Homo sapiens: one gene and its partner. The protein of the gene in region 1 interacts with the protein of each later gene in a pairwise test. Each region holds a gene or a part of one and is shown on either strand. Other genes may lie near its edges.

Region 1 (7,307 bases):
ACCAGAAACCTGTAAGATTCCTTCCCACTTCATTCTTCCCCTACACCCAGTGAATTCAAGACCTACTGAATCTACTTCCAACATATCTTTCATTATATTATCCTAATCTCCACTACCATAAACCTTGTATAGTCTAAGTCAACTACAAAGGCCACCTAATTGGTCTTTTGGTCTCACATTTGCCCTACGTTTCCCTCTGCCTAGCATATCCTTTCCCCGAACTCTTCAGATTTTGGCTTACATATCATTTCCTCAGGAATCATATCGAATCCAATCCAGATGATGCTTCCAACTCCCTTTAGTTTCTCAAAAACCTCTTGTTCTTTTCTTTCACTGTATTTATAACCATTGTTTGTTTGTTTTTATTTTTTGAGAGAGGGTCGGGTCTTGCTCTGTCACCCTGGCTGGAGTGCAGTGGTGCCATCACAGCTTACTGCAGCCTCAGCTTCCCAGGCTCAGGCGATCCTCCCACTTCAAACTCCTGCACCATAGTCCCAGCTACTTGGGACTACAGGCGTGCGCCACCAGGCTCAGCTAATTTTGGGGTTTGTTTTTTGTTTCTGAAACAGGGCCTTGCTCTGTTGCCCAGGCTGGAGTGCAGTGGCACCATCTCGGCTCACTGCAACCTTCACCTCCCGGGTACAAGCAATTCTCCTGCCTCAGCCTCACAAGTAGCTGGGACTACAGGCGTGTACCACCACGCCTGGTTAATTTTTTGTATTTTCAGTAGAGACAGGGTTTCGCCATGTTGCCCAGGCTGGCCTCGAACTCCTGGGCTCAAATGATCCAACTGGCTCAGGCTCCCAAAGTGTTGGATTACAGGCGTGAGCCACTGCGCCTGGCCTGTTTTTGTGAACATTTTTAACGGACAAAAAAATTAAGTGACATTTAATATGTCTCATCTATGACATTATAAGCTTCAGGAGGTCAGGGTCCTTATGTTTTGTTCTATTATCTCCAGTACCTAGTGCCTGAAACTTAACGGGACTCAGTATCTATTTGCTGACTATTTGTCAGCAACAAATAGTTTATTTATAAAGGTGCACTCAGTTTTTAGAAGAGACTTCTTCCCTTCCAGTGGCAAAACCAATTCATCATACAAGATACCTCATAGACCTGGCCACTAAAAAGCAACCTTTCCACTTTCCCCCAATGGTTGGGACAAAGAATCTCCCCATTACAATAATCAACAGGAGAAAAAAGAGGGCCACAAAGAAAACTGAGGCTTCTCGCAAAGAATCCGACTCCAAGGGAAGTAAGGGTTACAGGAAAGAAACTAGCATTATTCATTATTATTATTGAATAATGACTTTTTTTTTGTCCAACGACCTTCGTGAACTGTGCAAAAATATGGAACGCTTCACGAATTTGCGAGTCATTCTTGCACAGGGGCCATGGTAATCTTCTCCCTATCATTCCAATTTTAGTATATGTGCTGCCGAAGCGAGCACTCAATAATAATACTGAATTATTCTATATTATTTATTTTTAAAAGTCTATTATTTTTAAAAGCCACATGCATTTTAAATTTTGTTTATTCAGTACAGTAGCTATTAACTTGATGAGCAAATGTTAATGGTTAATGCTAATGCAATGCTAGATAGTATCTTGTTACCAAATAAGTATTTAAATGTAACTCAAATATTTAAATGTAATTTATTTAAATGAACGTAAGTTAATTCTCACTATTCTAGATTGGGGGAAGGAGGTAAATTCAAAGGTGCTTTCTAGAACTCAGCTCTCTCAGTTTGAATCCTCCCCCTTCAGTGCCAACTATTCTCACAAAACATCTATGAAAATAACAATTATATGGCCACTCCCTTAAAAGTAGAACTACTTTTGCTATCCCAAATCCGTAGCTTTAATTTTATAATTTCCAGGTTAAGTACACCACTTCCCAAAATCTAAATTAATTTTATAATTTCCAAGTTAAGTACACCACTTCCCCAAATCTAAATGTACACAGTAGCACAGTTCTAAGTAAATCTTGGAACTGTGGCCTGAAAGGGTAGTGGCTCTGAAAAGACTAGCCGGATTGCCAACTCACCAGTACATAAGGCAACGCCCCTTTGCAATTTTCTATTTGAAAAGGACAGAATAAGATGATAGACAATTCAGAAGCGTTTAATAGTAATGCTATTTATCTTATTTTTTTAATTCTCAACTTCTGCCCACTGAAATACAGTATCGTCTGCAAATCTCATCTCCAATCTCAAATATTTATCAAACCTGTGATTTCAGAAAATTCCATTGATATTTATTGTAGGTCATGCAAAAGGCAACACAGAACCCTAGGTTTGAGCCAACAAAACTAAAGATTGTCAAGTCTCTTCCAAGATTCCAGGACAAAGATAAGTTTAAAAGTCCCACAAGCTCTTGACCAACCATGGAAGCGGAGTTGGCCAAATTAGACCTTCCCAGGACCTTTATCAAACAACCAACCATGGAAACGGAGTTTGCCAAATTAGGCTTTCCCAGGACATTTATCAAACAACGTATGGCAAGCAACAAAAAGAGCAACAATTTGGCCTTGAAAAATATATTTGACTCGGATCCCTGGGATGGGAGGGCTAGAAGGAGAAGAAAGGCAATGGGAGTGAGAACACGAATTCTCTTAAGACAGGGCGTGAAGGCGAATAAACTTGGACGTTAACACTTCGGACCCCAGAACTCCCCTCCACCCTCAGAAAAGATCCAAAGCAGAGCTATGCTTCCCCCGGGGCTGAGAGTCAGCGGAACAGACGCGCCTCCCGGGGCGGGTCAGTTCTCCGCTCCTCAGCCTCTCGGGCCCGACAGCCCGAGTTACCTCCGGTGATGAGGAAGTAAGACACCACCACCAGAGCATACACAGTCATGGCCGACGGCATGTGCAACCAGGGCGGCTTCTTCAGCTTCAGGTTGGGACATTCGAGCACTAAGAACGGGACACGGTACAAAGTCTCCATGTTGGTGGCAGCAAGGGCCGTTCTCGGCCTCAAGCCCCACGCGCCTCCCGGAAACAGGCCCGCCCTCCCTAACAAGTGCGCGTGCGCGAGGAAAGGACCCGCAGATCCGTAAAGCTCGGAGGTGGTTACTATACTCATAGAAGAAAATAAGAAACTAAATAAAACAAATAAATGATATGAATAAAGTGTTGTAAATTATTTAATCTAATTAAACTTACATTGTGATAATGTACTCTACATTTTTCTAATGGATATATAGGTGATTTGTGTACCTTCAAGGACCTGCGGGACTTCTAACGTGGCCAAGCCGGAGAAGCGGAGGCCAAGGAATCTAGGTGAGCCCCGCCCACTCGCTGACGCAGGGGATTTGAAAGCTGATTGGACAGGGGGCGCTCCCGGTTCCCAGAGCGGGAGATGAATGGGAACTTTTGGATATAAATGCCTTTTATATTAGAGGTTTTTTCAAGGGTTAGGAAAAGCCGGAGGCTGCTGAGCTTTTACTTCCCGATGTAGTCGTGGTAATAATAAGAATTAATAATAGTTGCTAAAGTAATATGTTACCAATTTTTTTTAAACATCCAGCCTGGATCACAAATGTCAACAGGACATCTCTACAGGGATGCCTTAATGCTGATAGCTTGGCGTGACCATAATACTATTTTGAATAACTCATCCTCTCAACTTTGCTCTTCCCTTGGTCATCTGTATGTCGCTAAAAGGTAAAATCCCTCTGGCCAAAAATCTTAAAGTCGTCTGGATTTCTCTCCTTACTAACCTTCTGCATCCAAAATATTAGTAGGTCTCTTTGGCTGTACTACCAAAATATCTCCAATTCATCTGCCCCTCACCATTCCACCACTGACACCCTAGTGTGAACCACCGCCATCTCTGGTCTGGGCAACATTTACAATCCAAATAGATGAAAATATATGATGGAGAATTAGTCATTAGGGATGGACTAGAAGGTCTAAAAGATTTTTTGTTTTCTGTTTTGCTTTTCTTTTTTATATAATCTTTTAAGACTCTACAAATGTTAACTTCCTTTTGGAGCAAGAGTTAAGAGTCACTGATTACATAAGTCCAGAGCATATTGACACATTATAGAGCCAATGTTTTTATATTTTTTTATTTGCTTGTTACTAAGCCCGTGGTTATTTTTACAGGATGCCATGTATTGGTTCTGCACTTCTAATTAGCTAACAACTCAATTGTTAAGAAATTGCTTGAAGACGGTAATGAAAATACTATCAAAACATTGTAGTATCCAATTCTAAGTACAGTTGAGGCTTGCTGCCCTTACTGTTCATTAGTGAGAGTCTCTCCCAGAGTCATATTGCCTATGTCTTAACGGAGCCACACGAATCTTAGGTTATGTAAAGGCCAATGATAACACCAATAATGAATGCATTTACACCAAAACCAGCGTTTATATGTAGGAAGTTTCTCTGGGCACTGTAAAGCAGAATGTTTCTGAAATTCCCACAGTTTTATAAGTAAGGAACACTTTGGAACAATTAAAATATTTTGCTTTGGTATGAAGAAAAAAATAAAAATAAAACATTTTGCTTTGGAAAAACATAGGGATTAAAGGTTTTTAAATTTCCTTTATAGCTTAAAAAGGAATCTAACATTAATTAACCACTGCTTGGCAGGTACTATGTTAAGTGATTTACATTTGTGCTTATATACTCTTCATGACAATTCTGTTAGGTAAATACTAGTATAACTGCTTTACATATGACAAAAGTGGCTCCTGGGAAGGGAAATAAACTCAAAAAGTGTAGTATAGTCTGTGACTGGATGAGACCTAAAAGGCAATTGCTGTAGAAGTAAATAGATTTAAGACGTTTAAAATGGTATACGTTTATATACTTATCCTTCTTCCTGTGTATACTAGGGACACATAATTTCTACCTACATTGTGGAAAACATATAAATTATTAATATATAATTTTTAAATGAAAAATTAATTTCATAAATAATAAAACTGCCAAGTCAGAACACACTGCATTCATCTATATGTTAAATTATTACTATCACTTTCCAAAAAGTAAGTTTGCTCCAGGAACCAATTCATTATTATTTTTTAACCTCTTAAGCTTTGAAATATTTTTCAACATGAGTTTGTAATATTCTATAAGCCACGTATAAAAGAGACCTTTCATGAGTAAGATATGCATATCTGTTATCATCCATGTCCTAACCCACAATTCCTACAGAAAAATGTTCTATTTAAACATAACATAAACTCTGTAACTGAAAACCAAAGAAATAATGAATATAGCAGTGGGCATTAGAGCATGCCCTTAAATAAACATATAATCAATCATTCAGTGGTTTTCTATTTATAGATGAAGAAGGAAAAATGTTGAGAGAAACACAGTTTACAATATAATATGCAGTAGAGCTGTCATCTTAAGCTACATATAAAAGCAAATGTTAATAATTCTTACTGTGCACAAGCAAATATATATTCAAAGAAGAAAAAAGTGTAAAGATGGTATCTACCAAGCTTTCTGTGTTCATTGTAGAATATTTTAATAAAAAGCCTTGAAGTCAGAAATGGTTCTGCCAGCCAAAAGAGAGGGAGAGCTCCACAAATAAGTTTTTAACTAAATTCTAAACAAACTAGAATTACAAAGGCTACAAATATTGTTGATTTCTGTTTATTTAAATATGTGTTGGAGAGGAAATTAGTAGCTTTGTTTTTTGTAGGATAATAATACTAATATTAACCTGGATTTTTATTTATGAAGACATTTTGCAGTTTGGTTGACAGTGTCTTGAATTATGTTCTTTCGCGCTAGGTTCTGTATAAGCATGAGTACGAAGCACTATTATGTCTCATGATCTAAATAAAAACTCTTTCTAATGCAATATTGTGGGGTTTGGTGTTATTGTTGTAGTTATTTTACATTTTGAAGGTTGTTTTTAAAATTATATGCAAGTAATGGCTGGGCACGGTGGCTCATGCCTGTAATCCCAGCACTTTGGGAGGCCTCCTCACCTGAGGTCAGCAGTTCGAACCCAGCCTGACTAACATGATGAAACCCCATCTTTACTAAAAAATACAAAATTAGCTGGGCATGGTGGTGTATGCCTCTAATCCCAGCTACTTGCAAGGCTGAGGCAGGAGAATGGCTTGAACCCGAGTGGCGGACGTTGCAGTGAGCCGAGATCGTGCCATTGCACTCCAGCCTGGGCAACAAGAGAGAAACTCCATCTCTAAAAATAAATGAATAAACAAATAAATAATGAAAATAAGAAATAAAATTATGCAAGTAAAACATAGGAACCTGCCCAATGTAAAATAATTAATTTATTCAAATATTAGAGACACATATGGAACGAGTTTCCCATTATCACTATTCTAATTTTAGTTCTCCTTCCAGAGGTAGTGAGATCACTGAGTTCTAGAATGTACAATTGGGATAAATGTACTCAGCAAATGGAAAAATCACCATATTGGTTTCCTGACCCATATTATGAGGGCTTTTATGGCAGGAAAGTCTAAGTGTAACCAGTAGAACTGCTTTTACCTACAGAAATAATAAATCTAAAGTGACTTCAGTGGCTGATGTGCTATCAAAGACTTGAAAGATGCTGAGTAGTGATTTCTGCCACATTTCGCTCAATTAACTTGGCCCTTGCAAAAGAAAGATGGACCTTGGAGAACAACAGTGGATTATTGTAAATTTAATCATGTGGTGACTCCAACTGCTGCTGCTATTCCACTTGTGGTTTTGTCGCTGGAGCACATCAACACATCTCGTGGCACCTGTTAGCTGTTCTGGCAAATGCTGTTTCTACTTATGCCTATGGTAAAGATCATCAGAAGAAGTTTGCTTTCAACTGGCAGAGTCAGCAACACACCTCCATTTCAGAATTATATCAATTCCCCAGCTCTATGTCATAATCTGATTTGCAGGAACTTTGATTGCCTTCTCATTCACAGAATATCACACTATGACATTGCATTGATAATATGCTCATTAGACAGTGATCTAAGTAGCAACTACAGTAGATATATTGTTAGGACAAATGCATGCCAGAGGATGGAAAAATAAGCACAATAAAATGTCAGGGTCTCCTCAGGGAAATGTCTAGGGGTTAAGTGATCTGTAATACATAGAAAGCTCTTTCAAAATAAAGGATATTTGCTGCACAATGCTCAATGGATGGACCACTTGCAACATATACTTCATTTGGTCATACCATTTTGATGTATTTGCTGAGCAATCCAATAAGCTGCTAGTTTTGATTGGGATCCTGAATAAGCAAAGGTTCTTCAATAGCAAACTGCTCTGCCACTTGGGCCATACAACTTAGTAGATCCAGTATTACTTGTAACGTCTGTGGTAG
Region 2 (7,027 bases), on another chromosome or scaffold:
AAATGCTCCTATCGGAAGAGAACAGATGTTTTTACAATAATATTTGTGAAATATGGAAACTACCTCCTTGGGAATTCTGGATTCATTTTACCTGATTCTAAGGCCTCATGACCTCCCAAATACATTCTACATTTCATTCTAACTAGAAAATAAAGTTCTGTGGATTTCTGGAGTGCTGTGCAAGAGATGACCAAACAAGCCACCTGGAGCTATTATTACTTCAGAAACACATCACAAAGATAAGACACAGCAAGAAATCCTGGCACAGATTTCTAGAACTGTTGTGACTCAACACCCACAGTGAAGGTATCATACTTTCTTTGAAGAAGAACAACAACCAAAGGCCTCACATAATTAGTACGAATAAACTTAAACGATCTGAAATACTTCTGGCCAACTCAAGTCAGTGAATTCAAGGAAGAAATGTAGTAAAGAAAACGAAATTCACTTCTTTTCTAAGAGTTGAAACTAACCATGTGTTTGAGACTCCTGCTTAGCTAGCCAATGCTTTCATTTATAAAGTAATTTGAATGGAGAAACTGAGATGAACCTAGTCATTCTTGAATGGTGAGTCAGAAAGATTGTATATACCCTGGATATTGCCACTGACTTTCTTTTTAAAAGGCAAGATAGACTATGTGTATGCTATGCCTCTAATCAACTAGTTTAATAGTCTGATGAAAACAGGAAAATAGGCTTCTGCAGCCTGATTTGTTCTTGGTGAACCTATGCAGCTCCTAAGGATCACTACATCCCTTCCGTTTCCAAGAGTTAATGAACTGTTTATAAAAATTTTTTTCTCTCACAGGGATTTGTGGAGATCATTAAGCTTAATATCTATAGTTCCTAGAAAGAAAGTCTAGGCTGGATGCAGTGGCTTACCCCTGTAATCCCAGCACTTTGGGAGGCTGAGGTGGGCGGATCACTCAACGTCAGCAGTTCGAGACCAGCCTGGCCAACATAGTGAAACCCAGTCTCTACTAAAAATACAAAAATTAGCTGGGTGTTGTGGCGGGCACCTGTAAAAAACATTTGTTAAATGATGAATGACCAAACAAATGAAGTAGGGTCTAGACTTTCTTTTTCTTTCTTTCTTTCTTTCTTTTTTTTTCTTTTTTTGGATGGAGTTTCACTCTGTTGCCTAGGCTGAAGTGCAGTGGCACGATCTTGGCTCACTGCAACCTCTGCCTCTTGGGCTCAAGCAATTCTCCTACCTCAGCCTCCTGAGTAGCTGGGACTACAGGTGTGTGCCACAGTGCCCCGCTATTTTTTTTTTTTTTGTATTTTTGGTAGAGACGGGGTTTCACCATGTTGCCCAGGCTGGTCACGAACTTCTGCCATGTTCTTAACTCTTCAAGGTAAATGACTTGTTCTTTGACACTTGTGAGGCAAACCTGAGCTTAGATAGTTAAATTTTTATTATAACATATCAAGTAATTTGTGAATTTATAATCAACACCTGATAAGATTTTTTTTTTGGCCATAACTCACCCCACTATGATTTACCTATCCCATCCTACCTCTTATTCTGTTCAGAGCAGTTTCCAGACTGACTCACTTCTTCAATGACAAGTCCTTTGTACAAAAGAGAGTCATCTTATTTTCATGATACACAGTGATGTTTAGTGTAGACTTATATATCCACTTGGCTGTTTAATAGCTACCTCAAATTTAACAAGCCTAACTAAACTCTTTCCCCATATTCCTCTACACTGCTTCTCTCCTTTGCTTCCTCATCTCAGAAATGGCAATTCTACCTGTTTAGTTCCTGAAGTCCAAAACCCTGGGGTCACTGATGCCTCTTCTCTGTCTGTCATATCCCTTATCTAATCAATCTGAAAAATCCTTCAGCCATTCCTTCAAAATCTCTCTAAAATCTGACCACTTCTCCCCACCCACACTGCTTCCATCCTGGTCTAAGCCACCATCATCTCTTGCCTGGATTATTGTAATACTCTCCTAAAGATTCTTCCTGCTTGTATCCTTTCTTCCTGCACCTATTTTCAATACAGCAGCCAGAGGAATGCTGTTAAAACATACATCAGATCCTGTCATTCCTCTGCTCAAAATCCTCCAGTGGTCCTCCATTTCATGCAGAATAAAAGCCAGAGTCCTTACCTTGGCCAACAAGGCTCTAGATTGGATTTTGCTTTCTTAACTCATCTCCTTCCCTCTTCCTCTTCTTACTCTGCTCCCAGCCACACTGATCTTTCTGGAACATACCAAACATTCTTCTGCTTCAGAGCCTTTGAATTTTCTGCTTCTTTTTTCCCCAGACATTTGCATAGCTCTTACTTCATTTCATTCAGGTCTCTTCCCAAATGTTCCCTTATCAGAGTACCTTCCTTGATCATCTTACAGCATACCCCATCACTCTCTCTCCCTGTTGCTCAGCTATATTTTTCTTCATACCACTTATCAAATTTAACCAACTTTATTTATTGTCTGCCTCTTTATGCTGGAAGTAAATCACTTTGAGGGCAACAGGACATATTTATTGAGGGTCTACTAGGTGCCAAGTCTGTTTCTAGGCAGTGGGAATATTAAAAAAAATCCTTATTGAATGTTTATTCAAGTACTATATAAACTGCTGTATTTACTTAGTAAATATTTGATGAGTGTATTGAATAAATATAGTATACGCTCATCAGAGTAACAAGAATGGTTCAAAGGAAAAGGAGATTTGGATTGACTTACCACTCTTTAACTCATTGGAGCATCTGCCACATCTAAAGAAATGGTTCTACAGACCACCAGGTGAAAAGTTGGAAATCTAATAAAATTCAAGGACCCCCAGGCATTCTATACTCCTAACTCTAAGGGACTCTTGGATTCCTCCAAGCTATACTGATTAAAGAAAAATGCCTGGACTGCATGAGAAACTTGGCATTGGCACCAAGAGACTAGAGTCTAGTGACTGACTAGAGTATCAGATCAGGAGGGAAGTATATAAGAAGTGCTAAAAATTAATGAGAGGCTTTGACCTTGACCAGAGAGAAAACTGTTTTGTATTAGGACAGAATAAACATTCTAAGGAAGATCGGTATCAGAGACGTTGGTAGCTGAATTTGGATAAAGTAGTTTTAGGGAAAGGAGGAAATTATTTTCTTTAAGAGAAAACTTCGGAGGTTAGATGAAGAGGTAAACCTTAGAAGCCATTAGACTTACCACTCAGAGAGGGAGGGAAGACCACGCCCACTATAGAAGGTGATATTGCTCTTACCACCTGTCTCCTCTCTTCCTTTGCAACCAGGGATTATGAAAAGTTTGATGGTTGTGGGAGTAGCCTCAGGGGAAAAGCTGAAGGTGGAGAGACTTACATGTATCAGAGGGTGAGATGATTAGGAGAGGAAAGGGTCCATGCTTCTTAGCTCCCTGCTTCCACATAGCCAGAAGACTTCTGGGAAACTGGCTACAAGTAGTAGGTGAATAATGGGTAACTTTTACTACATGGACTGCATTTCTTAGGCTTGAATTGGTCATCAATTGTATGCAAAATGACTTCTCTAGAGAATGGCCCCACTGGTCCAGTTCTCCATTCAAAGGCTCAATGCTGCTGCCACCTCCACTGACTAGAAAACCCTATCTTACTGCTCTGGCTCTTTTTTTTTTTTTTTTTGGTATTATTATGGGGTCCTTGTTCTGAGCTCTTTCTCAGATTTCAGCCAGTTATACTTCTTATTGCCCCTACTGACAAAGTCCTGGCTCCATCTCTTTAATAGCTTCCGCCCTCTAAAACTGCTTCCATCAGTGGCCCTTACTCACATCAACAAATGTCAGTTTAAAATTTTCATTTTCATCTGTATAAAGTCATATTGCTTTGTAACCCTCCAGACACATATTATTGGCAGATGTAGCCAGACACATGCTGTCTTTGAATCCAGATGCCTTTGCAGCAGCCCAGAGCTATGTATTCTACAAACCCCTGTGCCCAAAGGGGTAGCATTATGTCAATTGACAGAGTGATGCTGAAATATCAGAGCAATTCAAAGACCCTGCCCAGGAGCTAGCTCAACATTTTGTTATGCCCCACAGAATGCATTGCTAGTTAACTCAAAGCTATTACACCCAGAACAGGGATGGTTTCCATTGATACATCACTGCCTAGCTGAAGGGGCAGTCAACATCATCGACTTACATAACAATCACCAACAATGTTCCAGATAGTAGGCTAGATTCTAGGCTTATACAAAGAGAAATGAAATCTCTGCCCACAAGAAACTTATAAACTAGTTCTAGAAGGTCTAGTTCAGATTTGGGCATGGTAGTGGATACCAACATTGATAAAATTATCATTGGAATTAACACATCATGTAAGTGCTAGCAGGGTACAACACTGTCAATTCCAAGAATAGAACCAAATCCTCCTGTTGACCTTAATAGGTGTGGGACATCTCCGGGAGAGATGAGGCCCTTATAGAGGGTGATTTTGAGAGATACAAATGCTATCATGGCTCTCAGACATACTGAGAAAGGACTGAAGGTATCTGGAGTTGGAGGAGGGAGGATCCTTGTATAGTTAGTTCTATGTTAAAGGACTGATTGGTAGGTTAGGCTGCAGAAATAGTCTATGACCTTGGGTCTGTGGTGGACAGTATATAAGATGATGAAGCACACTTGAAAAGGTAGTGGTTTTTTTTTTTTGTTTTTTTTTTTTTGAGATGGAGTCTCGCACTGTCACCCAGGCTGGAGTGCAGTGGCACAGTCTCAGCTCACTGCAACCTCTACCTCCCAGTTTCAAGCGATTCTCCTGCCTTAGTCTCCCAAGCAGCTGGGACTAGGCCCGGCTAATTTTTTTTGTATTTTTAGTAGAGACAGGGTTTCACCATGTTGGCCAGGCTGGTTTTGAATTCCTCACCTCAAGTGATCTGCCCGCGTGGGCCTCCCAAAGTGCTAGGATTACAGGCGTGAGCCACCATGCCCTACCAAGAAGGTAGTTCTTAAAAGGATACTTTTACTAACAAATAATTCAGAAGTGATAAAGGATCAACTGAGTAGACTTACCATCTGCTCCTTCATTGCTTTTGCTTCTTTTATTGCGGCGAACACGCCTACTTTCTTCTTCAGAGTATGGCTTTTCATCAGGGAAGAAGAAATTCAATAGGGCCATCTGTAAAAATTACAAGTACATTAGTCAAAGGTTGACCCCACTCAGTCATAGCCAACATAAAAAACCAGCTTTCCATAGACAGTCTACCTGTACCTTAAGTTTGATGTGTCTAAAGCCTGAGCCCATCTTCCCCTCCACTGTACAAACCATTTTATTTTTGATACCATTATTATTCCAATCATGTAGGCATGACATTTTGGTTAATTTCTGAATCCCATTTCTTCCACCCTGAATATCTAATAAATAATCCATCAGGTCCCATTTCTTCATATATTTCTGGGATTCAGAGAGCCTAGCCACAAATTTCTAACTTCCCACACATACTGAGGATGCTCACTCAGAATTTGAGTTGAACAGAAAATTGAACAGAAAACCTTGAATTTGGCTGGGAGCAGTGGCTCACGCCTGTAATCCCAGCACTTTGGGAGGCCGAGGTGGGCGGATCACCTGAGGTCAGGAGTTCGAAACCAGCCTGACCAACATGGTGAAACCCCATCTCTACTAAAAATACAAAATTAGCCGGGTGTGGTGGTGGGGGGTGCCTATAATCCCAGCTACTGGGGAGGCTGAGGTAGGAGAATCGCCTGAACCTGGGAGGCAGAGGTTGCAGTGAGCTGAGGTCGCACCACTGCACTCCAGCCTGGGCAACAAGAGCAAAACTCTGTAAAAAAAAAAAAAAAAAAAGAAGAAAGAAAGAGAAAGAGAAAGAGAAAGAGAAAGAAAGAAAGAAAGAAAGAAAGAAAGAAAGAAAGAAAACCTTGAATTTGCTGCTCCCCATTGGACTTCATTATTACACATTCATGATTTTGCCACATTGCTATTTATGATGTAATTTTGGTTTGTTCCCAAAATGCTGTGCATCCAATACTGAGGTACTATTTGTCAATGCTCTTCTGGGAGTTAGTCATGACAAAGTACACAATTATTTTCTCCTCTTCTGAGATTCCTATAGCACTTGTGGTCTATAAGACTAATTTTGGTACCTGGTCCTCTACTGTCTTATAATGGTCTCTGATAATAATACAATATGTTTCATATGTGAATGGGTCTGGCTTCACTAATAATCATAGCTTAAATATATATTTGCTGAATTGAATCATAATCTTTTAGCATGAGTGCTTTACTGTGGTAAAACCATGTGCTTGAGGTAAACAGTAAACACGGTAGTAGGACTGAGTGATTCTAATGCCAACTCTGCCACTTACTAGCTGTATAACCTGGAACAAGTTACTTAAACTTTAGTTTCCTCATCAGTAAGTAGGGATAATAATAGTACTTTGCAGATAAAACAGTTGCAGAGTTAGAACAGTACTTAGCATGTAGCATGCACTTAATAAATGTTTGCTATTACTATTATTATTAAACTTAATCTTCAAAATAGAATGGTTAATTTGGGGCCTAAAATAGAACAAATGAATCTGCATTTTCATTCTATTATCAGTTCAAAAAATAAAAAATTCCAGAGTCCTCATGTCTGCTCCATCTCTGATTAAGTGGAAAAAAAATGGGTTGGACCCAAGAAAGCCCCAATATTCCACACAAATTTTCTTCAAAATTCTGTGATTTACCCAATATCCTTAAGGTGTAGGATTAGCATCTTGAAGGATACATGAATGTATTAAATATAAAATTAATAAATCAATGTGTAGGTAATTTCCATCTTGTCAACAGGACTGCATTTCAAAATAAACTGCCATTTTTGTCAAAAATGGTTGAATATCAATCAACAATTTCACATGGTTCAACTGAGTAGTATTTTTGAGTCACTTGATTGGAATGTAAAAATGCATTTTCTCATACAATCAACATAATAAAGTTTGGCTAGTTCTCCTGATAAGCCCACAGAAAGTTACTTAACTCACAATATAAATAAGCTAAGTACTAATAATAGTATAAAACTAAACTGCTGTTTACAAT

What was found.
Region 2: the proteins of OSTC (region 1) and EDA interact in binary tests that used the Homo sapiens proteins (3 or more experiments, as listed by UniProt).

The regions. Positions count from the first base shown.
Region 1 is NC_000004.12:108,646,294-108,653,600, reverse strand, and holds the start of OSTC (oligosaccharyltransferase complex subunit OSTC), read right to left. Parts: upstream 3,003-7,307; 5' UTR 2,946-3,002; coding exon 2,807-2,945; intron 1-2,806. UniProt on the Homo sapiens protein: Subunit of STT3A-containing oligosaccharyl transferase (OST-A) complex that catalyzes the initial transfer of a defined glycan (Glc(3)Man(9)GlcNAc(2) in eukaryotes) from the lipid carrier dolichol-pyrophosphate to an asparagine residue within an Asn-X-Ser/Thr consensus motif in nascent polypeptide chains, the first step in protein N-glycosylation.
Region 2 is NC_000023.11:69,955,110-69,962,136, reverse strand, and holds part of EDA (ectodysplasin-A), read right to left. Parts: intron 5,111-7,027; coding exon 5,005-5,110; intron 1-5,004. UniProt on the Homo sapiens protein: Cytokine which is involved in epithelial-mesenchymal signaling during morphogenesis of ectodermal organs. Functions as a ligand activating the DEATH-domain containing receptors EDAR and EDA2R. May also play a role in cell adhesion.